4 linked regions of the Homo sapiens genome follow. The protein of the gene in region 2 purifies or fractionates together with the protein of the main gene of each other region. This does not show direct contact. Each region holds a gene or a part of one and is shown on either strand. Other genes may lie near its edges.

Region 1 (3,073 bases), on a different chromosome or scaffold from region 2:
TGCTGACCTGAGGCCATGCAGCCAGACTGAGGAAGAACAGGCCTGCCTCTTCCCTCACCCTGCTCCCACCCAGTCAGGCTGAGGAGATCAGGCCAGACAACTTGTTTGGGTTTAGAGACAAGGGGGCTTATTATGCTGGCGGCACCAAGGCACTAATGGGGGGGGGTATACAAGGGTGGGGGTGGCCCCAAGGCCTAATCCCTGTAATCAGTACTGTGGGCAGAGATGATGATGGGCCTGGCTTCTGCAGGCGCTGAGGTCACCTGGACTGGCCTCCCCCAGCCAAGCAACAGCCCCTGGCCCTCCCCAGGCCCCAGCACTGCTCCCTGCAGCTTGGGTCTGTCTGCCCTCATCCCCCCAGGTCCTCCTCTCCTCAGGAGGCAGCCCCTCCCCAGCACCAGCTTCCTCCTCTCCCCCGCCACCCCCCGCCCGCCCCCGCCATCTCTCTCCTGTACTAACCCTGAGGGTCCCCTCTGAGTGGGGGAAAGAAGAGTCCAGACTTTGAAGCGGAGGCATTACTTTATTCAGGCAGGGACTAGCCAGGCAGGGCCACAGCGTGGCAGGGATGGGGGGAGTCAGCACATGGGAGTGCCGTCACCTCCATTAGCCACAGGCCAGACGGCCCAGGAGGGCGTGCTACTGCAGTGAGATGGTGCACTACTGCAGTGAGGTGGCGCAGGGCTGGTGAGCTTGGGCACAAAAGCCAGCATGTCACCCTCCCTTTGGAGAAGCCTCTGGGCCACAGGCCTTTTCCAGCTGACGGGATGCGGAGGGAAGGGGACCTAGTACTATCGGGATTCAGCTGACTTAGCCTATGAGATGGAGCAGGCAAGAGATTCCCTTTGCAGGGTGGGAGGTTATATTCCTACAGCCTCCATTCTTGGAGTAGGCTCCTTTGCCACACCCCTTTTCACCTTAGCGGGCCAGGCCTCTCAGCCAGAAACCATATGTCAAGAGATCGTAAGTTAAGAGTGCTGCTCCTGAGCAGGGAGCGGGCTTGGAGGCGTCCTTCCCCTCCCCGCACCCCTAAGTCCCCAGTGCCGGGCAGATGGTCTTTTCCTAGTCCTCCCCTGAGGACCAGGACTCTCTATCTCCTTCCCTCTGAGTGAACTTCAGGAACTGACCCTGGCCCAGGTGAACAGGAGCCCCTGCCCAAGAGGTCTTCAGAGCACTCCCCTCCTCCTCCTGAAAGGGGCTCCCTCGGTCTCCCTCAGAGACTAGCGGCATTCCTTGCCCCACTTCCTCAGACTGCTCCAGCCCGTTCATCACTCCCCCATTCACATGCTGTGACTTCCCCTCCAAGTTGGGACCCTGGCCATTAACACCAATGATGTCTGCCCCTGGGCCTGCATCCTCCATCCCACTGGGGATCTCTAGAGGGCCAGGGACTTTGTCCTCCCTCTCCAAGGAAACAGGGTCAGACTCTTCCTCTGAGCCAGAAGGCTCAGCACTGTCCTGGGACTCCGTTTCCAGGGCAGTCTTGGGGGCACCAGCCACTGCACCCCTCAAGCTGTCATCCCAGGGGACACTGACACTCACAGAATCAGACTCCAGGAATTCCCCTCTCTGGGAGCTACTCAGGGCCTGGAGGCTGCCAACAGAAGACCCTGGCCCCCACCGCCCAGCCCCTGGCTCCCTCCCCTCCTCCTGATCCTCCTCTCCCTCCTCCCCACTTTCTTCCTCATCTGCAAACCCATCGGACTCCCCATCTCGATCCCAGGCTGCAGGATCCAGTAGCAGCTGGGGCACCTGGCCCAGAGGTTCTGCCACCTCCCCAGGGACCCCAGGAAGAAAAGGTGCCTCAGTCCCCAGGTCCTCAAATTCTTCTGACAGGTCAGAGTCACGGCCACACTCCTCTTCTCCCTCCTCCCCCTCCTCCTTTTCTGAGGGTGGGGCCTCAAGGCCCTCGGAAGCCAGGACAGCAGGATCCCAGCCCTCCTTTCCAGTCTCCCCTTGAGGGGGTGGCCTCTGCTCTCCAGTGGGGTCCCACCTGGGGGAGGTGGGGGACCTGAGGTAGAAGCCCAGGGGAGTGGAGTCTGGAAGGGTCTCCCCGAGCTCATCCTCCTCGCTCTCTTCTCTGCTCTCCTCCCCTTCCTCCTGGGGGCCCTCGGGGATCTCCCCAGAACCCAACTCCTCCTGCTCGCTCTCTACTTTCCCCAGGGCTTCAGCCCTCCCCTGCACCCCCCAGCTAGCCTCCTGACTCCCTTCAGCCTGAGGCTGAGGCCCAGGGGCATCTTCCAGGATCGGGGTGTACGTTGGGCTGGGGGAGACCAGCACTGGTGGTACATCCTCCTCAGCTTCCTCTGACCCCAGAGGCCAAGGTGAAGGGGCATCACTTCCAGTGTGGCCCAGGGTCTCAGCAGGGAACGCCTCCTCTGCTCCCCTGGGGGCCTCAGCCTCTGACTCCTCCCTACCCTCCCTGGGAGGCTCCCAAGGGTCTCTGCTCTTCCCAGGCAGCTCGGAGAACTCTGTCCCCAGACCACCTGCCTCCTCTAGGTCCTTTCTAGGCCCTTCCAAGCCCTGAACCCTCTTTGCCTCCAAACTCTCCTCTTCCAGGGGTGGTTCCATCACCTCTTCCCTGGTCAGATGGCCTGGGTCCCCCAGCCCTCCCACCCCCTGCCCCGGGCCTGGCTCAGCTCCCGCAGCAGACTCACCCATGGCAGGCTCTGACCCCAACATGACCTCTGGGGAGGCTTGGTCACCCCCTGGGGCCACATCATCTTCCACCAGGGGCTCTATCGCCTCTGGCAGCCCCTGGGGAGCCTGGAGGCCTGGGGCCCCCACCTGTTGTGATTGCCCTTCAGGGTCCTGGAGGCCCTCAGCCCCTCCCTTCACACTGGCTCCCTCAACCAGGCCTCTCTGCTCTTTGGGCTCAGGGCTCTCTGGGTGCCCCTCGCCTGGGATCCAGACCTCCTCTGTGGCATTCAGCTCTCCCTGCTCTACCACCTCCTCCTTCCCAGTGAAGCCATCCTGCTCCCTCAGATTCAGCTCTGCCTCATCCTCATTTTCCACTCCAGCCATCCCAGGAGGGCTTTCCTGAGCCAGTTCTTGGTCCTTCTCCACCGTATCTTCC
Region 2 (6,132 bases):
TCAGCCTTCTCAGATTCTATAGGACTAGACCATATCACTATTTGGCTACAAACATGCACTATTTAAGCAAAGGAAAGAAATGACCCCAAAGGCAACTCAGAGATCAGGGTGGCCACTCAGTGTGTGTGTGTATGTTTTGGAGGAGGGGGCACAGGCAGGAGAAGAGCTGAGTTCCTCCTCAGTTTCCGAGGGAAGGTCACCCTGCCAAGCCACAAGGATGACACTGCATCAAAGCAAAGAGGATTTATTCTTGAGGCTTAAGATATAATGGAATTTGCCTCAATAGGTTTTGGACTTGCTTGGGACCCATTAACACTTTGTTTCCTATTTTTCCTTTTTGGAATAGGAATGTCAATCCTACACCTGTCTCACCATTGTGCTTGGGACGCACATAACTTGTCTGGTTTCAGAGGTTCACAGCTGGAGAAAGATAGGAATCATAGCTCAAGTCTCACCCATACCTGATTTAGAAGATATTTAAATGAGACTTTGTACTTTAAAGTGAGAATGAGTTTAGATTCTGGGGGCTGCTGGGGTGGAATGCATATATTTTGCATGTGATAAAATGAATTTGGGGGAAGGGCTAGGGACAGAATGCTATGAACAGCATATGTTCACCCAAAATTCATATATTGAGAGCCTAACCCCCAATAAGGCTGTATTTGGAGACAGGGTCTCTAGGAGATATTAAGATTACATGAAGTCATCAGGATGGAGCCCTAATCCAATAGGATTGGTGCCCTTATAAGAAGAAGGGAAACCAAAGCTAGCTATCTCTCTGCCATATGAGGACACAGTGACAAGGCAGTCATCTGCAAGCCAGGAAGAAAGCCCTCATCAGAAACTGAACAATGCCAGACCATAATCTTGGACTTTCCAGCCTCTAGAACTATAAGAAATAAATCTCCGTTGTTAAGCCACCCAGTCTATGGTATTTGTTAAGGCAGGCTAAGCTAATTATACTTTCTGTACCTTGGTTTTCCCATCTGTGAAATGGGGATACTTATGCCATTATCTTACGCTTGTTGTAAGAACAAGTTAACACATGGAAAGCATAGAGAACAGAATCCAGCATATAATAAGTACTATGTCTTTGTGAGCAATGGTTATAAAGACGAAGTCTTTGTGCTCAAGGTGTTTGGCTGTCTACCTTGCACAAAAGGTGCCATTTGGCCTTAGCTGGGTATCTAGAAACCCTTGAAAACTCTCACTCCCCTTGGCCAATGTTTACAACTCTTTTAGCTTAAGTCTTCATTTCTATTAAGGTTAATTTCTATTGGAAGGGTAACAGTCACTTATTTCTCAAAGCAATGAAAAAAAGATGTAGGTCCCCAGAGGATGACAGTGAGTTGGAAGCAAAGGATGAAGCCCCTGAAGCCTATTTCTTCAAAGCATGAAGTTAAGGAGAAGGCAGAGTGGAGTAAACTTGAGAGAGGCAAGGCTATTTAAAAGGGTAATTGTTAAACTCGGAATTACTACAAAACTTCTTTTTTAAAAAAGAGACTCCCACGGGGCACAGTGGCTCATTCCTGTAATCCCAGCACTTTGGGAGGCTGAGGTGGTTGAATCACCTGAGGTCGGGAGTTCGAGACCAGCCTGACCAACGTGGAGAAGCCCTGTCTCTACTAAAAATACAAAAATTAGCTGGGCGTGGTGGCGCATGCCTGTAATCCCAGCTACTCAGGAGGCTGAGGCAGGAGAATCACTTGAACCCAGGAGGCGGAGGTTGCAGTGAGCCGAGATCACACCGTGCCACTCCAGCCTGGGTGATAAGAGTGAAACTCTATCTCAAAAAAAAAAAAAAAAGAGAGACTCCAAAACTTTCAAGACTGCATTTATTTGTCTCTAGAAGGTAACCCTGGGCCTTTTCATTTTTCATACTTGTGGAAGTCTGAAACAGAGAAAACATTCCATTATAAATAGTTAAAAATAAGAACCGTTTACAAAAGAAATAAAGAAATATGCAAAAAATTAATTTTATTAGTAATCAAAGATGTTTAAATTTAAAGATACTACTTTTTTACCCATTAAGATTCCTTCTTTTAATAGAGCTCATTGCTAAGAATGTGATGGAATTAGCACTCTTATTATACAGCCAGTGGTGTTATAAATTGGCACTATGCATCAGGTTATAGAATGACCTACCTGTGACTCAGCAGTTCTACTTCTGGGAATCTATCCTGCAAAAACAATACAAAATACAGAAAGGGCTAAACACATCGGTTATTTGTCACGTTTAAGAGAACAAAAAACTGAGAACATAGTGGCCAACAGTAAAAAAATTGTCCCACCTAATGGGTCACATAAACATGCCAGTGATAGAAAAATCAAGAACAGGCACACAATGTTATGTACCTGATGATAATTTTTTATTTTAGTTGCAAAGGAAAAGAAATGGGAAGGATTTTAGTGTATTTCCATCAGTGGTTTTACTAACGTGGCAAGATCATTTTGTCTCTGCTCAATTTTCTGAAACTCTCAACTTGAAGAAAAAATAAACCCATGACTGAAAAATAAAGCCGCTCAAGTCATGGTCAGGCATTTTGGATACTGAAACCTATTATGTACATCACTGTGGATGGTAAAGCACCGCAATCAAATGCTTTAACTTAGCCTTAAACATTTATCTATTTTCTAGTCCACCCTCCTTTACATTTCAAAGTTGAGTTTTGTTAGAACGAAAGTGGTTAAAAAGGACTTAACACTATCACCCACATCCCCCCCAACCCCAACACTTCACTGACTTGCAGGTATTGGGCAAGTTACTTCTGTTCCTTAGTTTCCTCACATGTAAAATGGATATAATTGTTTGTATAGCACAGGGTGGTTGTGAAAATTAAATAGGTTAATATGTATACACTGCCAGGAGCAGTCTCTGACACAAAATATGTATGAGTAGCTTTTTTTTTCTAATCTTGATCGAGTCTTTCCACTATACAAGTGATCAACATTTCTTTCTTTTTATAGTTCAGACCTAGCTTTGGAAGCTTTATTTTTAAAATAAATTTTAATTTTTTTCATATTTAGAATTTTTTATACTTGAGACAAATTCATATAAATTTACCTGAAGGATTAAAGGATGACAATATTCTGCCTATAGTCTACTGCATTTTAGAACATTTATTTTAGTTTGTTTTTAAGAATTAGCTGGAAAATTTCAGAAACGTAATATTTAAGTATGAGAATAGAAAAACTTGCCAAAGTTTATAAATGTTGTCTTTATTGTCACAGCTCATTAAAAATTGGCTGTTGGTCTCATCTAAGCCAAAGAGTTTAAGGTCCAAGAAGAGGGTAGTCTGGAGAATAGAAACCCAGTTTGCTGCTTAATATCTTTAAGAAGGCAGGCACACTCCAATTGTTGGCAGTGTGGCTGCAGAATTTGACGTATTATCCAATGTACATTCCTCCACCCACTGAGCCAGGCTTGGTGAGGGAGATGGGGTAAACAGAAATCCTTGCTCACTCAGCTTTAGAGTTCAGTCCCTGTTCCTATGATAATCTGAAAAGCAAGGCTCTTTCCAAAATCCCAGAGAACCACAAGCATAGGCACCATCACAGCACCAGCCCCTAAATCCCCAAAGTATAGAGAGCACAGTAAAATCCCAGGGCTATAAATGCAGTCGCCGGAGCAGCTTTTCCTCTGAGCCACTGTGCCTTTAGACCAGGGCAGAAAATCCCAACACCTTACCAGGTGAAATATGCTACTCTGGTGCAGGAAGGAGTGGGGAGGACTGGGACAAACCAGAAGGCACCCACCCCATTAAATGGGAAACAACTTTGGAAAATGCTGGGCTGACTAATCTCATCAGAATATGCCCCATGGGCTATTGGTGAACCCCAGGGCAGATGACTGTGCTTCTCAAGCAAAGCGAGACCCATCACTTACTGTGGTAGAAGTTTTACCATCGTATAGAGCCACTACCTGGGGGAATGTGAGGTGGAAGACAGAAGAAAGAGGCTTCAGGTCTTTCCCAAGGTGCTAATGAATTCATCCCAACTAGCCAAACCGTCTCATTTCAGAGCTTAAAATGCTATAGGAAGAAATGTCCCCAGTGAGTAATTTCACAGATTACCGCAACTTGGAACAGGGGTGGTAGGAGTCTACCATCCACACAGGATTCTTTCTCTCAGAAACTCTTTCAAGGAACATTCCCATGACATGCCAGAGTTTGGAAATATATACTGGCAGCATACCAAGGCCCCTGTAACAGATACTATGTCTCTCCATATGTCCCTTTCCAAAGGCCCTCAAGCCCCAGCACTCTTGGCATCTCACTCCAAAATTGAGGGTGGTCTTTGTCTAGAGACATGGTCTCTACAGTGTCACTGGCAACTCTGAACAAAATTTAGAGCCATGCATAATATGAAATGCCAGAACCATAACCACGAGTGGCAAATAGAAGGAATATACAATGGCAAGACAGCGAACAGCCTGCCATCTAGCAATGCCAACCCCAATATGGCAAAAACCTACACTTTGAAGCTCTAATTTTAAACAGGCCTCTCCTGGACCTTGAAATTAATTTTTCTCCCTACCAACACCACATGCTGTGGCTTCTCATGGCTCACGGCCCTCTCTGTCTGCACGAATACTTGCCAATTCATTCCCCGAGTGAACTTCTGGGGCTCTGGCCCCAGACGTTAATCTCCATCCCTGTCATCAGCAGATTCTCATGCACTTCATTTGGGACTTTGCCTCCCAGGAATGTTGTTGATCTTGCACAGCCTGCTCTGACCCCATCTCCAAATCCCCCAAAACGCCCATCCCTGCCACTACCAGGATTTCATTCCCTGGGTCCTCATCAAGGGTAGGGAAAAGGGTGCCACTCCTGCAAACTGAAGCTGGAGAGGGCCTGCCTCCCAAATCTTAAGCTCCTCTGGATATGAGCATTTCTGTCCAATGAGTCACATTATCTGTCACTAGGTCTCTAGTCTGGACAGGATCCTGAAACCTTATGGAGTCACCGCTTCAGGAAAGCTGGGCTGAATCTTTACGAGGATCCTTTTGTCAAATAAAGGTCAGCCTGAGCATCACTTCCTTGGACCCTTTTTATCTTGAGCCCACCCTGGTTCCTGATTGTAAAATGCAAGCTTTTTATACAGTTAATAAAGGTGATATTGAATAATCGCTCAACTCACATATAATTAAAGATCTCAGAGATAAATGTTAACAAAGAGAAAACTAGCCAGAAAGACGGCTGCACAGTAGGTACTTCAAAGAAAATGCGAGTTCTTCTCCCTCCTAAACAATTCAGTACTAATGTCATCAGTTGGGTCACAGTTAGGTAGTGAGAAGCCACAGTGACCCAAGTGAAGTGGTATCAGAGCCCAAGCAGGGTGAGATGGCACCCACATACAGAGGCAGCCCAGCGCAGGATATCAGAGATCCAGCAGATGAGGGGCATATTCACATGGGGGGTGTGGTCCAGTGCAAACATGGTACAGCCCAATCAGGATGAGAACGGCAGCCCCATGAAAGGAGTGGAGGCCTGGCCTGGGGACTCAGAGCCCAAGCTGGGTAAGAAGTCCATGGAAAGGGGCAGTTCAGCATGGAGTAGAGAAACCTGAGCTGAGTAGGCCAGGCACTTGTGTGTGCAGGTGATTTAGCGAGAGCAGGGAGAGGAGGAATCCACATATGAGGGGACCGGCGTGGAACGTCAGAGCCAAGAAGGAGGTTTTTGCGGAGGTACAGCTTGCCATGAGTGTTAAAGTTCAAGTGGGTGAGGAGAACAGCCATGTGGTGAGGGGATGGCAACAGAGATGGGAGATGGGTTATACACAGGGGCATCCTCAGATAAGTGGCTGATTCCAGGGCTGGGATAGAAAAGTACAAGATGAGCTTGGAACACCTTCTGCCAAAAAGGAAATGATCAAATAATCGTGATGACATATCAAACAGAAAGGCTGCCAGCTTAAGGAGCTTTCGCTGGCCACAGTGGGGACAATTGGAGCAATAAAATAATAAAAAATGATAGTATATAATAATCCACTGAATTAAACAGAAAACCATGAGCTCATACTAATATAAAAATGTCTGTATAAAAACAACCAAAATGTTCTAAAATATTTACGTGAACAGTTAAACTGTGGTACATCCACACCACAGATGACTACTCAGCAAAAAGCAGAGGA
Region 3 (4,544 bases), on a different chromosome or scaffold from region 2:
TGCCCAGGGGCATCTGTGGGAGAGAGGAGGGTGGTGCCATACCTGCTGCATCAGGCATCAAAATCCCCCGTCAGTTCCCCTGACCCCCACCTCCACGCCAACATGCAGGACTAGGGGGCTCCGAGCCTGCAGTCCCTGGGGACCCACGGGGGCTGCCAACAGAATTCAGGGAGCCTATGACCTTGGATGGGAAAGCATTACACCTCAATTTCACTCACTTCTCACTGAAATTGAGCAGTTCTTTCAATGAGATGTAGGCAAGAAACCAAAGTAGCAGTGGTAGGACCTGCAACTTTGTTACTAGTATTTGCTTATCACATGACAGTAGCTGCAAATATTTCAAAATATCATTTACACATATTGCTGCTTTGAAATTGTGGTAGCTACTGAGATCACCAGATCTTGTTATTTGATGTGTTAATAAAGAAGCACATATATAGCAAGTCAGGAAACTTAAAACATGTTTTGATTACTTTACTTCAGCATAATTGCTTTCCTTAAATCAATGTATTTTATTTTATTTTATTTTGTGTAGTCAACAGGATCCGTGTCGGGTGACCCGCCATTCTACTTGCCAAATTCTGTCTGGCTTTAGCCCTGAAAGTCCCACATCCCAAGAAACCCCTCAGTCCGGAGCTACTGGGACCGTTGGTCACCTTGGACTGTGGCAATAAATGGTTCAGAGCCTTGGTGTTCTCTCCATCTTACAGAAGAGCAGGCAGGCTTGGGCGAGTGACTGGCCCAGGATGTCCATACTGTGTGTGGCTCCACACCCCCCCAGCCCTATCTGCTCATGACCCATCCCACAGGCCGGCACTGGCCACAGTAGCTCTGGCAGGGGACAAGAGTAGGGGACCCTCTGCTACCCTCCACCAAATGATGAGGAGAACGGCTGACATTTACCTAACACCTATGATGTGGCTGTGCGGGGAGCGTCCCATCCAGCTACAGACACCACTGCATTTAACTCAATCCTTACAACAACCCTATGAATGAATATTATATATAGATAATTTTTATTTTATTTATTTATTTTTGAGATGGAGTCTCGCTCCGTGGCCCAGGCTGGAGTGCAGTGGCACAATCTTGGTTCACTACAACCCCCACCTCCCAGGTTCAAGCAATTCTCCTGCCTTGGCCTCCCGAGTAGCTGGGACTACAGGTGTGCACCACCACACCTGGCTAATTTTTGTATTTTTAGTAGAGATGGGGTTTCGCCATGTTGGCCAGGCTGGTCTCGAACTGATCTCAGGTGATCCACCCACCTTGTCCTCCCAAAGTGCTGGGATGACAGGTGTGAGCCACCGCACCCAGCCTTATTTTTTATTTTTTTGAGACAGGGTCTCAGTCTGTTGCCCAGGCTAGAGTGCAGTGACACAATTGTAGCTCACTACAGCCTCGACCTCCTGGGCTCAAGTGATCCTTCTGCCTCAGCTGGGACCATAGCCATGTGCCACCACACCCAGCTAATTCTTAAATTTCTTGTAGAGATGAGGTCTCCCTGTGTTGCCCAGGTTGATCTTGAACTCCTGGGCTCAAGCAATCCTCCTGCCTGTCTCCTGAGTAGCTGGGACCATAGATGAGCACCACCATGCCCAGCTACTTTTTGTATTTTTTTGTAGAGACAGGATTTCGCCTTGTTGCCCAGGCTGGTCTGGAACTCCTGGGCTCAAGCAATCTGCCCGCCACAGCCTCCCAAAGTGCTGGGATTATAGGCGTGAGTCACCATACCCAGCTGAATATAGTATTTTTTTTTGAGAGGGAGTTTCGCTCTTGTTGCCCAGGCTGGAGTGCAATGGTGCATGCAATCTTGGCTCATGGCAACCTCCACCTCCCAGGTTCAAGCGATTCTCCTGCCTCAGCCTCCGGAGTAGCTGGGATTATAGGCATGTGCCACCACGCCCAGCTAATTTTGTATTTTTAGTAGAGATGGGGTTTCTCCATGTTGGTCAGGCTGGTCTCAAATTCCCAACCTCAGGTGATCTGCCCGCTTCAGCTTCCTAAAGTGCTGGGATTACAGGCGTGAGCCAGTGTGCCCGGCCAGCTGAACATAATATTAACAACAGCTAACATTCTGTACTGACTCTGTACCACACATTGTTCTAGGCATTTAAAATGCACTAAGTGGCCGGGCGCGGTGGCTTATGCCTGTAATCCAGCACTTTAGGACGGTGGCTTACGCCTGTAATCCAGCACTTTAGGAAGCCAAGGGGGGCGGATCACCTGAGGTCAGGAGTTAGAGACAGGCCTGGCCAACATGGTGAAACCCCATCCCTACAAAAAATACAAAAATTAGCGGGGTGTGGTGGCAGGCACCTGTAATCCCAGCTACTCAGGAAGCTGAGGCAGCAGAATCGCTTGAGTCTGGGAGGCGGGGGTTGCAGTGAGCCGAGATTGTGCCACTGCACTCCAGCCTGGGTGAAAGAGCAAGACTCCACCTTAAAAAAAAATGCACTAAGTAATTTTACTCTCACATAAAATTTTATCCAAATCTTTAGGGAAAGATGTTACTCATCTCCATTTTATATGAGGCACAGAGAGGTTAAGCGACTCACCCAAAGTTCCACAGCTAGTAAGTGGGAGAGCTAGGATTTGAACCCAAGCAGGCTGGCTCCAAGTCTATACTCTTACCCACTATACCACTGCCTCGCCTATTATATTAGTGATACATAAGAAGAGATGTGTCTGTAAAGGGGTTAGCACAGTGTCCGTAAACATTCAATCAGCATTCACTCTTCACTGTTTCCTTAGCTTTTCAGTAGACGGTGGAATTCTTGGGAATGAGGGTCTTGCTTTATGCATCTTATATTTACTGCTCTCAGGGCAAGGATGGGCAACAATAGTTTGTTGACTGAATACATGAATACAGAGGAGGAAACTGAGGTCAGAGTGGTTTCAAAGGCCTGCCCAAGGTCACCCAGCCAGTAAGTGTGGGGCAGGCCCTAGCTCCACATGGCTGTGGTCTTCATTCTGTCTCTCTGCCCAGCAAGCTCCTCATATAAAGCTGTTTTGCTTGCAGGCCAGAATTGAGGGTGTGGGGTAACTGGAAGAGTGAGCTGAGCTGAAGCTGGGGAGGAGGCCATGGCAAGTACTCACCATTGCCCCCGCTGCCTTCAAGATGCCAGTCGGACTCTGCTATGCCATGTCCAGAGCCTATGGAGAAGGGCAGGGTCCAGTTGGTGGGCATAGACACCCGTGGGTACTATGTCGAGCTCCGGGGCCCCAAGACAGAGATGAAGTGGAGAGAAGCCAGGCCTGGGTACCTTGTTGGCAGCGTGGGCCAGAGAAGCCAGGGAGGCAGAGGCAGCGGGTGCCCTGGCAGGTGCCCCCATGCAGACAGGGTTCACGGAGCTGGCAGGGGTTCTCCTCGTGCTCACACAGGTCTCCTGTGGGCCAGGGCAGAGGCGAGTGGGTGGGTGGGCATGGGCTGGAGGTGTCGCTGACCACCTGTGCCCCTCCCCTCCGGTGCCCTGGGCAGGCTTTCCCACCTTTGAATCCATCTCGACACAGGCACTGGAACTCATACTCGCCAGCGGGCATGCACGTGGCACCATGTTGGCAAGGCTGGCGCTCACATGGGGAGCTATCATAGCATTGCCCGATGCCCTGGCTGCCTAGGAAACTGTAGGTGAGGTCCAGCCGTTTGCCATTCACTGACACCTGTGGGGACAGGGACACCGAGGGACTAAAGGGGCCTGGGAGGCAGAGACCCAGGTGTACCAGCAGGGAGAAGAATGCAGCAGAGGGGAGCTGGGAGCCCACATTGGGCCCTGAGTGGTAGCATGGATTCTCGGTGTGGGGAGGGAGGCGCAGGAGTTGAGTGCCTACTGTGTGCTAGAAACATTCATCCGTCAGTGCAGACAATCCTCTGCCCAACCTTTCAAAGTAGGTGTGATCATGCCCATTTTACAGAGGAGGAAACTGAGGCTCAGAGGTACAGTGTCCTGGCCCAGGGCCCGTGGGTGGCTGCAGGTGGAGGGGCCCAATGCCAAGGTGCTTGGAGAGCCGAGGGGGACACAAGGCTTGGCACCCCTCCCCTCCCGCTTGTCCCGAGGAGGCTGCTCTTACCTCGCCCACACAGCCGCGGAAGTGAGCGCTCATGTTGGTGGCCGGGGACAGTGGCACGGAAGGCTCCACACCCCCCAGGTAGAGCAGGGTGTGCAGGTTGAGGCCCTGGCTCTTGCCGGGCGAGGAGCGCAGCACAGGGCGTCCACCATTCACCCGCAGGCTGCCGTCCTTGTTGAGACGCTCTGCAGACACACGGTGCCAGCGGCCCAGGGCCAGCGGCTCGGCGCTCCGCAGAACGGCCAGCCCTGGGGAGGATGCCAGGCAGGGTTGGGCACATGGGGGCACACGGGGCTCCCTGCCCTCTCCACCACAAACAGGGCCCTGAGCAGATGGGGAATGCCCTACAGCCTTCTGTATTCCAGATGAGGAGCCCATGGCTCAGAGAGGGCTAGGGATTGGCCTCAAGTGACACAGAGACGAAATGCACAGGAAGAGGGGACTTGCCCTGATCCCTGCATTTATCCTCCCATGCCTCC
Region 4 (6,461 bases), on a different chromosome or scaffold from region 2:
TGAGGGCTCTGACACCCTGGACACTCCCCCACCCTCGCCCCCAGAGCCTTCATGAGGAGAGGGCAGTAGACTGTTCTGTCCTTTCCTGCCATCTCCTCCTTTGCCCCCAGGGCTGCCCACACAGGTCCAGGCAGGGCCGGTGGTAGCAGGTCCCAGCATTCCAGAGGGGGCCTAAGGGGCCAGGGACAGCAGTGAGAGAGAGAGAGACAGAGAGAGAGAGACAGAGAGAGACAGAGAGAGAGAGACAGAGAGAGAGAGAGAGAGAGAGAGAGAGAGAGAGAGAGAGAGAGAGAGAGCGCATTAACCCCTCAACGTCCAGAGCCATCCTATCAGAACCTGCAGACGCGGGCCAGGCATGTTTTATCCTTTTGAACACACACACACACACACACACAGTGCACACACAGTCACGCTGAACACCCAGACACATGCTGAAACGTTCCCTCCCTCACTGTGACCCGGGCACCCCTCACCCTAGTGAGGCAATGGAAATATCTTATGCGCAATGCATTCCAAAAAGTTTCCTTCTCTCTGGGGCCTCTTAGTCCCAGGCAAAGAGGGAGTGGGGGTGGAGTGGGTGCAGGGCCGCCTCCTCCAAGTCGCAGGCTCCCCATTATTTCTATTAAGGCTTTCAGGGTTTCCTACCTGGCCCTTCTCCACTTCCCATCTCAGACTGAATAGGGGGGTACCCATGACCCCTTCCTCCTCCTACTGGGAATGGTGGGGAGGGGTGGGGAAGGAAAAAGGGGCCACATTTCAGGGAAGGCCCTGCTAGAGGCTGGCTGGCCGCCCGCTCAGCCATCCCTGACCCTCATCCGCTCAGGGCAGCGGATGCTGCAGTCAGAGCTTTCCTTCCTGGCGCCCCCTTCTCCCTCTGACTCTGCAGTGACAGCAGGAATAGCTGGGAGGAATAGCCCAGCCCAAGCCAGGAGGGGTGGGGAAGGATCTCAGTTCAAGGGTGACCCCTGGGCCAGGCACCCATGGCTGGCCATGCTTGAGGAATGTTGTTGGAATGATGTTAGATAAGTTGACTTGGTCAGTGTTAAAATTCCTCTATTGCAGATGAGGAAACTGAGGTTCAAAGAAGGGAAAAGACTTCTCCCTTGCAAAAGGGGTCAGGGATAAGATTTGAACCAAGTCTGTCAGCCACAGGCTCACAAAGCAAGACCCCTCTAAGCTCCAAACACTCACCAACGGTTACAGTTGTCCCAGTACGTTCCCAAGACTGGATAGATACGACCTCCATGCATACATCCTGTTGGAAGGGAAGAGAAGAGAAGTGGAACCAGAACCAGAGAGGATGGGCTAATTGGCCAGGTCCTTGGAGGTCAGGTACCTTGAACCTTTCCAAGATTCTCTCTCTTTCTCTCTCTCTGTCTCACACACACACACACATACCAGCTCTCACTGAAATTAAACTATAACTGAAGACATCACACACACACACACACACACACACCAGCTGTCACTAAAATTAAACTATAACTGAAGGCATCACACACACACACACACACATACCAGCTCTCACTGAAATTGAAGCCAAACTATAACTGAAGATATCACACACACACACACACACACCAGCTCTCACTGAGATTAAGCTATAACTGAAGACATCACACACACACACACCAGCTCTCACTGAAATTAAACTATAACTGAAGACATCACACACACACACACCAGCTCTCACTGAAATTAAACTATAACTGAAGACATCACACACACACACACACACCAGCTCTCACTGAGATTAAGCTATAACTGAAGACATCACACACACACACACACACACACACACCAGCTCTCACTGAAATTAAACTATAACTGAAGACATCACACACACACACACCAGCTCTCACTGAAATTAAGCTATACTGAAGACAACACACACACACACACACACCAGCTCTCACTGAAATTAAGCTATAACTGAAGACATCACACACACACACACACATACCAGCTCTCACTGAAATTAAACTATAACTGAAGACATCACACACACACACACACACACACACCAGCTGTCACTAAAATTAAACTATAACTGAAGGCATCACACACACACACACACACATACCAGCTCTCACTGAAATTGAAGCCAAACTATAACTGAAGATATCACACACACACACACACACACCAGCTCTCACTGAAATTAAGCTATAACTGAAGACATCACACACACACACACACACACACACACACACACCAGCTCTCACTGAAATTAAACTATAACTGAAGACAAATCCTGCAGGGTCACACACCAACTGCTGTTTGGGAAGTTCTTCAATGATTCCAACCTGGATTCCTCTTACTTTACTTGGATGCCAGCCACAACATTCCTGGGATCCTTTTCCATTTAAATAAGTTAGGGCTTGGAGATGGGGAGTGGGAGGAGCATGGGGAAGCCAAGGCCCAGAGAAGGTAAGCAACCGTCCTAAGATAACACAGCACTCTTGAGATGACAGCTCAGGTATGCAGTCTGCCGGCCCAAGCCCCATGGAACTGTGGGAAGGAACGCAAGTGATTCTCCTATTGGACAGGGGCAAGTGCATGGAAAAGGATGATGGTGAGGCTGAAAGCAGGAAAAGATTTGACCCATCTCCCAGGTATGAGCAGCCATCTCGGGGCACAGGATCCTAGAATCCTCAGCAAAGGCAGAAAAATGGCTAAGATGACCCTCACCAACCCATATGTGCCTTATCAGCCCAAGAGTGAGTCAGCAGGTGCGGCCAGCACCTTCCGTGTCTGGAAAAGAGACAGGATTGGGAGAAAATGTGGGAGGTTGCCCTTTCCCTGGGCCAAATTAGAATTCTAACCAAGGAGCTTCTTCAGTCTTGCTGGAGAGTAAAGTTCCCAGAGGGGCAGGGAAGAGTCCCAGATTCTACAGAGCTTCCCCTGGAAATGTCAGTGCATCCATCAGCTTTGCTCTTGAGCCTTGCTGAGTCTGAGGTGGACAAAGTGACCCACCCTCCTGGCCATCTTAGTGCCCACCTTGGATCGGGGGAAAAGGGGGTGGCACGCCGAGGCAGAAGTCCCAGAAGTCAGGGCAGCAGTCGGAGACCGTGCGGTTGCAGAAGAGGTCACAGTAACAGATGGCGCCCAGGTAGGGCAGGGCACAGTCGTCGGCACGGCCGCGGCAGCACAGGTCCTGCTCCTGGCAGTACCGGCCTCCCGCGTCCCGGATGCCCCGCAGGTGCAGACCCGGTGCTAGCTCCCGGCGCCCACGACCCTGCTGGGCACCCAGAGCCAAGTGGCCAGCCAGCGGCAGCAACAGCAGTAGCCCCAGTGGACATCGCCACATGGTGGCTCCTGGGCCCTGGGGGGCAGAGATGGTGGGCAGCAGAGACTCCCTGGAACACCAGGGATGAGTCTCCCAGTTTCCTGGAGCTGTGAGTTCAAGAGGGCCCAGCAGGGAGGGAGATCCCGATTCCTGAGTCCCCAGGCAGGACACGGGCAGAGGAGCCCCAGTGTGTGGGCCCTGGCTATAGGGGGATGGGGACTGGGCAGAAACGGAGCCCCTCCCTGACCTAGGCAGGGACCTTCAAGGACAAGGAAATGAGGGTGGTGGCATTCTTGGTGCTCCCACCCAACACTCATCCTGTGGACCCAAGGTCTTCTCTCCTGTCCTAGGTCTCTCTGCCCTCCAGCAGCCTCCATCCCTGACCTGGGTCCTTGACTTTGTGCTTTCCTGTCTCCCCCGGTCTTTTGGGTACACCTCTCTTCTGTTCCTGTGTCCCTCTGTCCCCCTCCACTGTCCCTCTCTCTGCCATCTGTCTTGGTTCCTCTACCTGCCCCCTCCCCCTGTTTCTTCTCTGTCTACACCTTCCGCCCTCTGAGCAGGGGAGCGTCCCTACCTGGTGAAGGTGTGGGCTGGGGCCCAGGCTGGCCCGCGCGCCTCCGCCTCCTGGCTCTGCGACCGCCGGACGCTCAAAGTCAAGAGAGGAGCGCGGGGCGGGGCGCTTTTTGTACCGCCCGCCCTCTGCACCGCCCCAGCAGTGGCGGAAGGGAGGGGCGCCTGGCTTGTACCTGGAGTAACTACCCCACAACTCATGGGCTTGCAGGGTGGAGAAACGACAAGCACACGATTGTCCTGGCTGGGTCTCCTGTGGCGGAAGCCGTTCCCTTAGGGGAACCCCAAGCAGGAAGGATTGCGGTTTCACACTGGGAAGGACTTCACAGTGGGCATCCCTGTGGAGCTGAGGGGCTCTGGTGGAGAAGGGGGGATATGGGCAGCCGAGCTCTGGGTTATGGACACAAGTTTGGGAAATGATGGGGAGGGCATGTGAGGCAAAATTCTGTAAGCCTCTCCTGACCCCTCGGTAATAAAAATAGCCATGCACACCCCTCTCCACTGTGCCCCCTAGGCTTGGGTGCCGCCCCCCTAGCCACCCCAGCTCCTAGGAATGATTGGAATTCCAGGAGTATGATCCTTAGGTGCCCTGGGCGGCTCATCCCTGGGAGGTGGGCAGGGTGTGGGGGTGGCCTCTGCACCCTTTGATCCCTTGTTGAGTCTGCCTTCCCTTGCCTGCTTGGGCCCCTAGACGAGCACTGCCCTCTCTAGCAAACCCAAGGGCATCCTGCTTGGCACCTGTCCCCCTCCAAGGGTCCAAAGGCAAGGGCCCTACCAGCTGGCACCCCCTGCAGAGGCCCTCCTTCCTGCCGCAGGCATAAACCTTTCTTTGCCCAGGCTGGCCTGGGACCCAAACAATGGGGCTTCTGTCCCGCCAGGTCTGCCGTCACCTTTTACCTCCCTATTGTGCAACGCCCTCTCTTCAACAGGTTGGGCCCAGGCCAGAGGTCTCTACCAGCAAAGAGGATAAAAGAGACTACACCTGGACAAACCCTCCCAGGCCCAGGCCTGAGCCTCACATGTGGCCCCGGGGAAGGCATCAGGGACTCCCTTTGCCCTCCCACTGACCTCCCTGCAAACCTCCCCCAAACCAAGGGGCATCCTCAGCTGGCCAGACCCTGGGGGAAGGGAGAGAGCCGAGGATCACCGGCACCTGTGGCTGGGTTACCCCTGCCATGGACCACTGGGTGGTGAGTCACCAAGGGGGTCCTGCCCTGGTGGTGGGGGTGGAGGGATAATATCCGGGGGCCCCAGCACTGGCACTAACACACCCAGGAGCTGCCCATCTGCTCCCTGCAGGGACCTGGGAGGACAAAGCCTAGGTGGGAAACTGAGGCTCAGAAGAATGCACTTGCCTGAGGTCGTGCAGCCAGAACACAGGCTCCCTGCCTGCCACCAGCCCACTCCTTTACCCCTAGTCACCCTTAGTCACCCACTACAGGTCTCAACGTGCTCCTGGTTGGGAAGTCTCTTTTCTTATCTAAACTCCATTCATCTTACTGCAGGACGGGCCCCTCGGTATTGGTAAATGTCATATCCTCAGGGTAAGAGATGAAAGCTGCTTTCTTTCAAAAGAGTTCGTGTCCAGAGTTCCTACTTTTATGGTACCTACTTTTTCATGGTTCTGGGGCTGGGGGCTTGTTTAGAGACATCTGGCCTCTCTTTTGCCCAAAATCACACCGCATAGGCTACCCTCGTGAGTCTGGGTGTGTTATCTCTGTGTGCATGTATGCATGTGTATATCTGAGTTGCGGTGTTTGTGGGGGTGTTTCTGCTTCTGCTTGAGTCTGTCAGTCCACATCTGATCGTCTGGGTTTTTTTTGCTTTTTGTTTTTTGTTTTTTTTTGAGACAAGGTCTCACTTTGTCACCCAGGCTGGAGTACAGTGGCGCGATCTCGACTCACTGAAGCCTTGACCTCCTGGGCTCAAGTAATCCTCCCACCTCAGCTTCCTGAGTAACTGGGACTACAGGTGCACACCGCCATGCCTGCCTGAATTTTTTTTGTATTTGTAGTAGAGATGGGGTTTCACCATGTTGCCCAGGCTGGTCTCCAACTCCTGAGCTCAAGCAATCCGCCTGCCTTGGCCTTCCGAAGTGTGTTTACCTGTCTATCTGCTATGTGCCTGTGTATCTGTGAGTCTGGATATTTTGGCTATCTGCCTGTCCTTGTCTGACTGATTGTCTGCTTGTCTATCCATTTACCTGTCCATCTGCTACATACCTGTGCATCTGTGTGTGTGTATCTGTCTGGATGTTGTCTCTGTGTCCATTATGGATCTGTCTGTCTGCCAGCGTGTGTTGTTTGCCTGCATTTGTGCACTTGTTGGCTTGTATGTCTGTGTGTGTGTCCTGCCTGTGCCTCCCTGTCTAAGAGGTGTCTGTGTATCTGTGTGGGAGTTGTGGCCATCTGCCTGTCCTTGTCTGCCTGCCTGTCTGTGCATAAGAGGCAGGGACTCAGAGCAGGGGATGGGAGCAGAGCCAGAGCCTCCCACCATCACTCAGCTTGGCACAGAGCCCGCCCCAGTGGAATTTTGTGACTCACTGGGTTCCTTGGCCGAGGAGGAAAAGGGCAGGGCCGGGGGTGCTGGACACCCCCACTTT

The links.
Region 1: the proteins of FIGLA (region 2) and NES purify together in Homo sapiens (affinity purification with mass spectrometry; one large-scale study listed by BioGRID and IntAct). This does not show direct contact.
Region 3: the proteins of FIGLA (region 2) and HSPG2 purify together in Homo sapiens (affinity purification with mass spectrometry; one large-scale study listed by BioGRID and IntAct). This does not show direct contact.
Region 4: the proteins of FIGLA (region 2) and TINAGL1 purify together in Homo sapiens (affinity purification with mass spectrometry; one large-scale study listed by BioGRID and IntAct). This does not show direct contact.

Annotation. Positions count from the first base shown.
Region 1 is NC_000001.11:156,668,263-156,671,335, forward strand, and holds the end of NES (nestin), read right to left. Parts: coding exon 1,060-3,073; 3' UTR 501-1,059; downstream 1-500. UniProt on the Homo sapiens protein: Required for brain and eye development.
Region 2 is NC_000002.12:70,775,492-70,781,623, forward strand, and holds the end of FIGLA (factor in the germline alpha), read right to left. Parts: intron 2,181-6,132; coding exon 2,146-2,180; intron 1,892-2,145; coding exon 1,876-1,891; 3' UTR 1,819-1,875; downstream 1-1,818. UniProt on the Homo sapiens protein: Germline specific transcription factor implicated in postnatal oocyte-specific gene expression.
Region 3 is NC_000001.11:21,824,767-21,829,310, forward strand, and holds part of HSPG2 (basement membrane-specific heparan sulfate proteoglycan core protein isoform b precursor), read right to left. Parts: intron 4,314-4,544; coding exon 4,069-4,313; intron 3,661-4,068; coding exon 3,489-3,660; intron 3,387-3,488; coding exon 3,264-3,386; intron 3,154-3,263; coding exon 3,097-3,153; intron 460-3,096; exon of another isoform or gene 14-459; coding exon 1-13. UniProt on the Homo sapiens protein: Integral component of basement membranes. Component of the glomerular basement membrane (GBM), responsible for the fixed negative electrostatic membrane charge, and which provides a barrier which is both size- and charge-selective.
Region 4 is NC_000001.11:31,573,998-31,580,458, reverse strand, and holds the start of TINAGL1 (tubulointerstitial nephritis antigen-like isoform 1 precursor), read right to left. Parts: upstream 3,945-6,461; 5' UTR 3,864-3,944; intron 3,326-3,863; 5' UTR 3,311-3,325; coding exon 3,001-3,310; intron 2,616-3,000; exon of another isoform or gene 2,562-2,615; intron 2,315-2,561; exon of another isoform or gene 2,271-2,314; intron 1,256-2,270; coding exon 1,192-1,255; intron 1-1,191. UniProt on the Homo sapiens protein: May be implicated in the adrenocortical zonation and in mechanisms for repressing the CYP11B1 gene expression in adrenocortical cells. This is a non catalytic peptidase C1 family protein.